2 separate regions of the Homo sapiens genome follow, and region 2 is linked to region 1. The links come from fine-mapping of genetic effects on gene expression. A gene starts in region 1. The other region holds a variant in brackets. All regions are shown on one strand. Distances are from middle to middle. Region 1 holds the start of FBXL20 (F-box and leucine rich repeat protein 20). Region 2 overlaps FBXL20 (F-box and leucine rich repeat protein 20).

Region 1 (5,524 bases):
AGTGCAGTGGCACAATCTTGGCTCACTACAACCTCCGCCTCCCGGGTTCAAGCAATTCTGCCTCAGCCTCCCGAGTAGCTGGGATTAGAGGCGCCCACCACCACGCCCAGCTAATTTTTGTATTTTTAGCAGAGACGGGGTTTCACCATGTTGGCCAGGATGGTCTCAATCTCCTGACCTTATGATCCGCCCGCCTTGGCCTCCCAAAGTGCTGGGATTACAGGCGTGAGCCACCGCGCCCGGCCATCCCTTTGCCATTGTTACTCACCAAATGCATCAGTTTTTGCTGGGAGAAAACAGCTCTTAGATGAGACAGAATGAAAAGGCTTTTTTATTCCACTGGCTGAAGTCAAGCAAAAACATTAAAAGTACCTGGGACAGGAGGAGAAGACAGACCTGGGTTTGTGGGCCTGAGAATGAGTTTCTGAAGCTAGGTCCCTGGTTTTAGGAAGCCCCCTCTAGGATTAAAAAAAGCCGGGGGGTGGCGCGCTGGTCGTGGTGGCTCACATGAGGCCTGTAATCTCAGCACTGGGAGGAGGCTGGAGGATCACTTGGGCCCAGGAATTGCAGACTAGTCTGGGCAACATAGGGAGACCCCGTCTCTACAAAAGAAAAAAGATCCCAGCACTCTGGGAGGCCGAGGCGGGCGGATCACTTGTAGTCAGGTGTTCCTGACCAGCCTGGCCAACATGGCGAAACCTCGTCTCTACTTAGCCAGGTGCGGCGCGGCGCGCCTGTAATCCCAGCTACTTGGGAGGCTTGAACCCGGGAGGCAGAGGTTGCAGTAAACCGAGATCGTGCCACTGCACTCCAGCCTAAGCGACAGAGTTGAACCTCTGTCTCAAAAAAAAAAAAAAAAAAAAAAAGAAAAAGTTTGTACAGTGCTTTAAGAGTTGGGTAATATGTCCTCCAGCTAAAATATACCTGTTCTTAAAGATCTGCCGCACTTGTTGCTCTTGTTAATTTCTTAGACGCATAACAAGTCAGTCGCTAAAACCACTAATTAAAAGGGGTGTGAGGAAGACCAACTCATAACTGCTTTGGAAGCATACAATTAGCAGTGCTGCTGCTCCTGCCAGGTGTGCTGGAATTTATTATACAGTTTCTAATAGTTCACTCTTAGGACATAATTTTGTAGTTTGTTGCTCATAGAAGGGGCAACAAAACTACAAAATCCTGTGTTATTCCTTCGTGGAAATTCGGTCATAAATTCTGAGACCTTGAAGGCCAGAGTTGTTAAAACATAATATAATATGATGACACAGATCAGCTTCTATACAAGGAGCCCGGGAGTCTGATGAAGTGTTTCCATCGGGAAAACGCCCCCGCCTACTCGCTCACACACGCTTGTTTCTCCCGCCAAAGTGACGTCAGGCCGAAGCTCTCACCAAACAGCGCCCTGATTGGCGGACAGGCAGGCGCTGCAGCCCATTGGGCGCCGGCGGCGGCCGAGCAAGGAAAACCAAAGGCTCTTCGGTCTCGCCCGCCCCACCCCCACGGACGCGCGCCCCGACCCCGGCCAAAGGAAGGGTTGCCCGGCTCCAGCCCTGCACCCCCGACCCCCGGCCTCAGGTGCAGCTCCGCAGCCATCCCCGGACCAGGGCGGGCACTTGGCCTGTTGCTCAGCGCAACCACCCTCGCCCTCCCGAGCCATGCACAGGGAGACAAGCGTCCGGCCCCGGCCCCCCAGGCCTCCCTGCAGCACCCCGTAATGTAATGCACTGGGGCGGGGGAGGCGGGGGAGGCGGCGGCGGCGGCAACCGCGGAGGCGCGGCGGCAGCCGCACTGCCCCAATCTAGACACATCCAGAAGAGGAGGAAAATGGCTCCGAGCAGGGACCGCCTGCTGCACTTTGGGTTCAAGGCGACAGTGAGTGACAGGGGAAGGGAGCTGGGTGGCCGGGAAGGATGCGGGTGCCTTACAGGATCCTGGGGAACAAGTGACGAGGGGCGACGGGCGCGGGCAGAGGCTGAGGTTCTGTGCAGGCAGGTGCGTGCCTGTTTGCCCGCGGAGGGAGGAGAGGGGGACACGGGGCAGAAGAGGGGCCCCCGCGCAGAGTGCGGTACTGCTCTACTCTCCCTCGCTGGTCCGCGAGCACGCGCGCACTCGCATCCGCCCCACAGACCCCCTTTTCCACACGCACAGGCACTTCCCTGCCTCGCCTTCTCCCGATGGGCTCGTCTGCCTCGGAGGCGCAGGGGGTCGTGCCGCCGCCGCGCACCGGCTGCTCCCGGGAGCGCCGTCAGGGCCGGCCCCGTGTGGGGGAGGGGTGGTCTCGCGCCGCCGCCGCCGCGCTCCTCCCCTCCCGCCCCTCCCCCTCCCGGGCGCTCCGAGGCCCGGGCGGCTCTGTCCAATGAGCAGCGGCGTTGCTGGCAGGTGGGGAGTGTTTTTGTTTTGGGTTGAAGTTGAGGCTGAGGAGAGAGCCGAGCTAGCGACGAGCAGTCGTTGCGGCCGCCGGCGCCGCGGGAGGTGGTGGAGGCCTAGCCGGAGCCGAGAGGTCTCTTGTTCCCGTCCCACGGTCCCGGCGTCACCCCTCCGGCGCCCAGTCCCCGTCCCGGAACTCCCGGGCCTGTCCTGGGCCCCCGGTCTGTGCACTCCGCTCGCCGCAGCGCCCGGCCCGGGCCGCACCCGCCGGCCCCATGAGGAGGGACGTGAACGGAGTGACCAAGAGCAGGTTTGAGGTGTGAGCTTGGGGGGCTCGGGCGGCGTGAGGAGGGCGGGTCGCGCGCTCTAATCCCAAAACGTCCGCTCCGCACGGAGCCTCCTCCCTGGCAGGCGCCGTCACCCACCCACTGGCGGGGCTGCCAGACTCCGCTCCCCTTTCTTGCGACCCAGAAGCCCAGCGCAGCCCGGTGCCCCCAGTCCCCTCGCCGGTTCGCCCCCCGTCTCTTCCCACCAGCGGGCCCCCGCGGGGGATTAGCTCGGGCGCCCTAATTCCACCCTCCTCCAGGATCGCTCAGCTTTCCATTCTTTACACAACCCTTGGCTTGCCTCCTTCCACCCAGCCATCACGGCTCCGGTCCACCAGAGCCTGCTGCTTTTCTCGCTGCTACCTTCATGACGCGTTTGTTGTCTGTTGAGGGAGGAAATTAGGGGATGGGTACCATTTCTCCGAGTTTGAGACCTTGGTGAAACTAGGGAAGTGGGGACGGTAGTTTGGGATGATAGAGGCTACCACGGGTTTTCGGTGCTGTGTTTGGTTTGGGTATTGTTCTGATACTTCCTCTGCTTTCCCGTTTAGTCTGTACTTCTGTAGCTCATTGTTCCTTGGGAACCCTTGGATGTCTACATGCTTTGAGATTGGGACGAAAGTTCAGCAAATCCATTCCGGTCTGTCTTTCAGGAACTTTTTCTCCTCTAGCGAGGGAGGTTTACTGTCCTGGAATTGAGGAGTGGACGGTCTTGAAAGCGTCTTTAGAGAGTAGTCATCTTGCAAGGAAGAGATTCCTTTGGGAAGTGAAATATTGTAACTACTGATGAATTACAGTAGTATAACAATATACTGGAAGGTTCCTTGAGGGTCAAGAGAAAGAAACTTCTACAGGAAGAGTAAATGTCACCTGGTCTTTTCTGGCAGAGAACCAGGCTGACCTGGGATCACTCACAGCTCAGTGGACAATCTCACTCGGTGTTTTTCTTCATCTCCATTTGAGAGATGAAATTGTAAGACGGCGAGACAAAAGTTTAAGAAACTCGACAACTAGGTTCAGGGTGTGAAAACTTTTAAGGGTTGTCAGTTTAATCTATTCTTTGATTTCTTATTATGCGAACTGGGAAATAATTTGAATTGATCCACGAAGATCAAGATAGGAAGTGTTTTGGGTGCAGTTTAAGTTCAGAGCTTCAGTGTTACTGTTGCACTTCAGGAGTGGAGAAAATCAAAGAATTGGCCTTCTTAGAGTTTTAGTATTTAACTTGATCACTAGAAGAAAATGTTATGGAATATATTATTTGGTGTTTAATAGGACATTGGATGGCCCTAATGTACAGAGCCCCAATAAAGTTAATTTATGATGGTTTCGTATTCAGTAGTACCGTAAAAACCCAGAATGTCACTAAAATTGCTGAATAGACGTTCAGCAGTTAACAGGAATCTTGAAAGGCAGTTCCAGATACTGAAGATTTGAGTCGGGGACAGTCTTTTGCCTGTGGAATTAGCTCTTTATCAGTTTGCTGTTCATTTTAGATTGAATAATTTTTGGAAAGTATTCTCTTGTATGTGGTGTAAAATTACATTGCTATTTTGTATTTTTATAATTATCTTATACTTTAATTTACAATCTCTGTAGGGGTGGCATACTATAATAAAGTAATAAGGAAATTTGTTGCTGTATTAAGAGGTTTCTTTTTAACTTGTAGCTGATGTAGCTGGCAACGAAATCTTTCTAAATATGATCTGAGAAGGTAAAAAAAAGAATAAGGTGGGGAGTCCTTCTTGGACGGTTTCATGATTAAATAAGTGTTTGTTTATAAACTAAAAGCTATTCACTTAATATGATGTGAAGTGTTCCATGCCGGAATACAGATGAGAATGGCTAGAAATGATATGTGTTAATGAAGTTCATTGAGTACTTCTTAAAACCATTTACCTCTTTATTGACCTAATTTACAAGGACTGAGACAATTAGTAATTGGCTTCTTAGGAAGTAGTAAATAAATTTATTGCTTATTTGTTGAAAATATTTTAAATATTTACTTTCAATAAAAGATACGTAAATAAAGCAGATCTAAACATTTACATCAAATGATATTTTAAATCCTCAAGATTACAGTCTGCTTCTTAAAGAACTGATAATTTTACAACTGTAAGCAGATAGCAGATCTCATTGAGAATTTTTGTGGATGCATGAAATCTTTATATCACATAATAGCTAATTTCAAATTGTGGCTACGTAAGGTTTATTTTTCTTGGAGAAGATAACTGAAGCTCTATGATTTTCAGATAGTTGATTCATTGAAATCCTTTTGTAGGTATGCTTTTATATGTTGTAACTGGAGGCCACACACCTTAAATCTCCCACTCTGGGTTAGAGCTATAGAAAAAAAATTTTTTTAATTTAAAACCAAGGGGCCGGGCGAGGTGGCTCATGCCTGTAATCCCAGCACTTTGGGAGGCCGAGGTGGGTGGATCACGAGGTCAGGAGTTCAAGACCAGCCTGACCAACCTGGTGAAACCCGGTCTCTACTAAAAATACAAAAATTAGCCGGGCGTGGTAGTGGGCACCTGTAATTCCAGCTACTCAGGAGGCTGAGGCAGGAGAATCACTTGAACCCAGGAGGCGGAGGTTGTATTGAGCCGAGATTGTGCCATTTTACTCCAGCCTGGGCGACAGAGCGAGAGATTCCGTCTCCAAAAAAAAAACAAAAAACAACGAGGGTGAGTACCTGTTAGCCAGATGTGTAGCATCCTGTGGAATAGCCAAAGTAGATGACTACTGAATAAAGAATCTCTATTTAAGAGATCAAGAGATGTGAAAATTCATGTTTTTCTTGCTGTGTCACCATGGCATTAAATGTATACAGT
Region 2 (5,000 bases), 86 kb after region 1:
ACAACATGGTATAATGAAACTCCTGTTACCCCACTTCAATAATTGTCAACATTTTGCCAATAAAGCTATCATAGGAATTTTTTTTTATATGGCTTGAGGGCAGGGATTTTACATTCTTCAAATATGAGGTTTCCTAACACCATTTACTAAATAATTCATTATTTTCCTACTAATTTGAAAGTGAGGCCGCGAGCGGTGGCTCACGCCTGTAATCCCAGCACTTTGGGAGGCGAGGAGGGCGGATCACTAGGTCAGGAGATCGAGACCATCCCGGCTAACACGGTGAAACTCCGTCTCTACTAAAAATACAAAAAAATAGCTGGGCGTGGTGGCGTGCACCTGTAGTCCCAGCTGCTGGGGAGGCTGAGGCAGAAGAATGGCGTGAACCTGGGAGGAGGAGCTTGCAGTGAGCCGAGATCGTGCCACTGCACTCCAGCCTGGGTGACAGAGTGAGACTCCGTCTCAAAAAAAAAAAAAAAAAACAAAAAAAAAAACAAAAAAAAAAACAAAGTCAAACTCTCCTATGTATTAAATTCCTACATGTATCTGGGGCCTTTCTGGATGCCCTGTTTTGTTCCATCATTTTTTTTCCTTCTTTATAATCACCATATTATTTGGAATTCAGTAATTTTTGTACATTTTAATAAGCACCTTGGTCGGACACGGTGGATCACGCCTGTAATCCCAGCACTTTGGGAGGCAGAGACGGTCGGATCACGTGGTAAGAAGTTCAAGACCAGCCTGGCCAACATGGTGAAACCCCATCTCTACTAAAAATATAAAAATTAGCCAGGCATGGTGGCACATGCCTGTAATCCCAGCTACTCAGGAGGCTGAGGCAGGAGAATCAGTTGAACCCCGGAAGCGGAGGTTGCAGTGAGCCAAGATAGCACCACTGCACTCCACCCTGGGTGATGGAGTGAGACTCTGTCTCATGGGGGGAAAGAAAAGCAGCTCTTCTTTGTCTTTTTTAATAAGTTCTTGGTGATTTTCACACATTTTTCATCCATATCAACTTCAGAATCAATTTTTTTCGTTAAGCAAAAATCTGTTTGGATTCAATTCATATATTGGACATTTAATCAGGAAATTAAATTACATTGGGAAGTATTGGTATCTTCTAAGATATTAAATTATGCTATCCAAGAACATCTTATGTTTGGTTAATTATTCTTGTCTTCATTTTCTTTTAAATGAGATGGAGTCTCACTCTGTCTCCCAGGCTGGAGCACAGTGGCGCAATCTCCGCTCACTGCAACCTCCGCCTCCCAGGTTCAAGTGCTTCTCATTCCTCAGCCTCCTGCGTAGCTGGGATTACAGGCGCCCAGCACCATGCCCGGCTCATTTTTAGTATTTTCAGTAGAGACGGGCTTTCGCCATGTTGGCCAGGCTGGTCTCGAACTCCTGACCTCAGGTGGCCCACCCCCGCCTTGGCCTCCCAAAGTGCTTGGATTACAGGCGTGAGCCACCGTGCCCAGCCGTCCCATTCTTCTTAAACTTCAGTTTATTAATTTACATCAGTCTGAACTTATGGCTTCCCTTTTTTATTTAGTAAATTGTAATTCATTGCTCTCGTTTGTTTTCATATTCAGGTTGTCCCAGATTTGGCCAGTGGAAGCCCCTTCAAGCTGGTTACCATGACTTTTTGACGTGTCCCCATCATTCTTTGAGCACTCACTTGCTTTCTATCACAAGGTGTTCCAGGCTCATCGTACATTTTCTCTGCCCTATTTCTCCAAGGAGCCCTGATTCCTTCTACTAGAAAGAAATGTTTAGAAGCCAGTATCTGGGAGTTAAATACCATTGCCATTGAGGGGTTATTGCTCCAGGCCCTCTTAGTAGACAGAGCTCGGGGGGAAAGAAAAAAATGTGTGTGTGTGTGTGTGTGT[A/GTA]TATGTAGATGAACACGTGTATATATGTACACAATTTACATGTATGTTTATATCTGTATATATTGATAACTATGTTTCTATTAATACACTGATATTTCCAATTCCAATCCAACACTGCATAATTTAGTCTAGTTTTCTCCCTTTCCAGATTCACATCTCCCTTTGTAACAGAAACCTAACTTCTGTTGTGGTTCATGTTTTTTTGTTTTTAGAGATAGGATCTTGCTCTGTTAACCGGGCTAGACTGCAATGGCATGATCACAGCTCCCTGTAACCTTGAACTCTAAGGTTCAAGTGATCCACCTTGGCCTTTCCAAAAGCTGGGATTACAGGCATGAGCCACCTTGCCCATCTTTATTATGGTTAATGTATTTTATTATTTACTCAGTTCCCCTGATTTTAACCAATTTCGCTCTACAGTTGCTCTCTCTCTCTCTCTCTCTCTCTCTCTCTCTCTCTCTCTCTGTCTCTCTCTCTCACTCTCTCTCAAAGATCCCCTCTTCACTTCATTGGGTTTGGGCACTTCATGCCATGCCACCTTCCTCCTGTTGCACGGACAAAGTCCTGCTTGGGTTCTAAAGCCCGCACTAGGTTTATCCTCTGTGTGGATGCCCTTCTCACCTTACTTTGACACTCTACCCAAGGCTGCCCATTCACCCTGCTTGTATCCCAGTATCTCCTGCTAGGTCACCCTCCTCAAGGGTCCTCTCCTCACTCTGCTTGGACTCCGACGTATTGTTCAAGCCTCTGCACCCAACCTCTAACCTGGCATTGATACCTACCTTTCTATGCCCCTCCTAATGGCTTTAGAACTGACTCTTTCAACAAAGGAAAGGAAGAGGAAGAAAACGTGTACCTATATATGTTTTAAAGACATGTACTATATATATATATATATATAAATTATTTAAACTTTGCCCATTAATAATCTTCCCTCCTGAGGTAGTTTGTGAAAACCTTACTAAAAGCGTACTGCTTTCAATAAGCACGTGAAAAGATGCTCAACATCATTAGCCATCAGGGAAATGCCAATCATAACAACAATGGGGTACCAATTCGCACTCCCTAGGATGTCTGTAATCAAAAAGTGTTGTCAAGGATGTGGAGGCCGAGGCAGGCGGATCACCTGAGGTCAGGAATTCGAGACCAGCCTGGCCAACAAGGCGAAACCCTGTCTCTAGTGCAAATACAAAAATTAAGCTGGGCACAGTAGCCCAACCCTGTAATCCCAGTACTTTGGGAGGTTGAGGTGGGCAGATCACTTGAGGTCAGGAGATTGAGACCAGCCTGGCCAACATGGTGAAACCCCGTCTCTACTAAAATACACAAATTAGCCGGGTGTGGTAGTGTACACCTGTAATCCCAGCTACTTGGGAGGCTGAGGCAGGAGAATCGTTTGAACCAGGGAGGTAGAGGTTGCAGTGAGCTGAGATCGTGCCACTGCACTCCAGCCTGGGCAACACAGAGTGAGACTCCATTTCAAAAAAAAAAAAAAAAAAGAAAAGGATATGGAGAAATTAAAACCCTCACAAACTGCTCGTGAGAATGTACACTACAGTGTACACTGGTACAGCCACTGTGGAACACAGCTTGGCAGTTTCTAAAATCTCTAAATATAGAAATACCACATAACTGGCCAGTTGTGATGGCTCACACCTGTAATCCCAGCACTTTGGGAGGCCGAGGCAGGTGGATCACTAGAGGTTGGGAGTTCCAGATCAGCCTGGCTAACATGGTGAAACTCTGTCTCTACTATATATACAAAATTTGTACAGGCACAAGGCTGGATGTGGTTCCTTGTGCCTGTAATCTCAGCTACTCAGGAGGCTGAGGCAGGAGAATCGAATCTGGGAGGAGGAGGTTGCAGTGAACCAGGATGGCGCCACTACAGCCAGGTGACAGCCTGGGTGACAGAGTGAGACTCGTCTCTGAAAAAACAAAAAGCATAATAGCCAAAAAGTTAAAATAACCCAATTGTCCATTAACTGGAGAATGGATACAGTAGGATATTATTCCGCCATAAAAAGGAATGAAGTATGAATACGTGCAACAACATGGATATATTCTTTAAAATGTGCTAAGTGAAAGCCAACACAAAAGTCTTCATTACAGTATTATTCCATTTATATGAAATGTGCGGAATAGGCAAATCTATAGAGAAATAATGTTGATTAGTGGTTGCCAGGAGTTTGGGTGAGGAAGGGATAGAGAGTGACTGCTAATGGGTACAGGGAATCTTTTGAGATTGTTGAAATGTTCTGGAATTACATAGTGGTGATGGTTGCACAACACTGTGAATATACTAAAAAAAATCACCGAATTATGCACTTTAAAGTGTGTATTTTAAAAGATAAATTTTGGGCCGGGCACTGTGGTTCATGCCTGTAATCCCAGCACTTTGAGAGGCCAAGGTGGGCAGATCACTTGAGGTCGGGAGTTGGAGACCAGCCTGACCAACATGGAGAAACCGCATCTCTACTTAAAATACAAAATTAGCTGGGTATGGTGGCGCATGCCTGTAATCCCAGCTACTCGGGAAGCTGAGGCAGGAGAATCGCTTGAACCCAGGAGGTAGAGGTTGCTGTGAGCCGAGATTGTGCCATTGCACTCCAGCCTGGGCAACAAGAGCAAAACTCCGTCTCAAAAAAGTAAAAATAAATAAATGTTTGTTATGAGGGAAAAAAATAATTGCTGTAGTAGCTAAAACCCTGGCAGCCTACCCCACCAATTCTTTTATTTTGGTTTCTAAAGATAATTATCTCGGCTGGGCAAGGTGGCTCACACCTGTAATCCCAGCACTTTGGGAGGCCGAGGCGGGCGGATCACTCGAGGTGAGTAGTTTGAGACCAGCCTGGCCAACATGGCGAAACGCTGTCTCTACTAAAAATACAAAAATTAGCTGGCGTGGTGGCAGGCGCCTGTAATTCCAGCTACTTGGGAGGCTGAGGCAGGAGAATCACTTGAACTAGCGAGGTGGAGGTTGCAGTGATCCGAGATTGCGCCATTGCACCCCAGCCTGGGCAATAGAGTGAGACTCCATCTCAGAAAAAATACAAATTAAGAAAAAAACAAAAAGATGGCCGGGCACTGTGGCTCACACCTGTAATCCCA

Evidence for each region. PIP is the estimated chance that this variant, and not a neighbour inherited with it, causes the effect.
Region 2: its variant is the best candidate, but not a certain one, in a credible set for the expression of FBXL20 in whole blood (INTERVAL, PIP 0.57).

What each region holds. Positions count from the first base shown.
Region 1 is chr17:39,398,518-39,404,041 of GRCh38, reverse strand. FBXL20 (F-box and leucine rich repeat protein 20) reads left to right here and starts at 2,416. Exons shown (of 15, transcript NM_032875.3): 1 at 2,416-2,681. The coding sequence starts at 2,640. RefSeq lists silencers at 1,267-1,431, 1,397-1,786, 2,037-2,116, 2,147-2,346, 2,377-2,806 and 1 more.
Region 2 is chr17:39,313,184-39,318,183 of GRCh38, reverse strand. All of the region lies in intron 2 of FBXL20 (F-box and leucine rich repeat protein 20), which reads left to right. Among named protein-coding and RNA genes, the nearest start is that of MIR548BC, 18 kb to the right of the region's middle. RefSeq lists a silencer at 2,021-2,221. The variant A/GTA (reference allele first, on the strand shown) is at 1,890.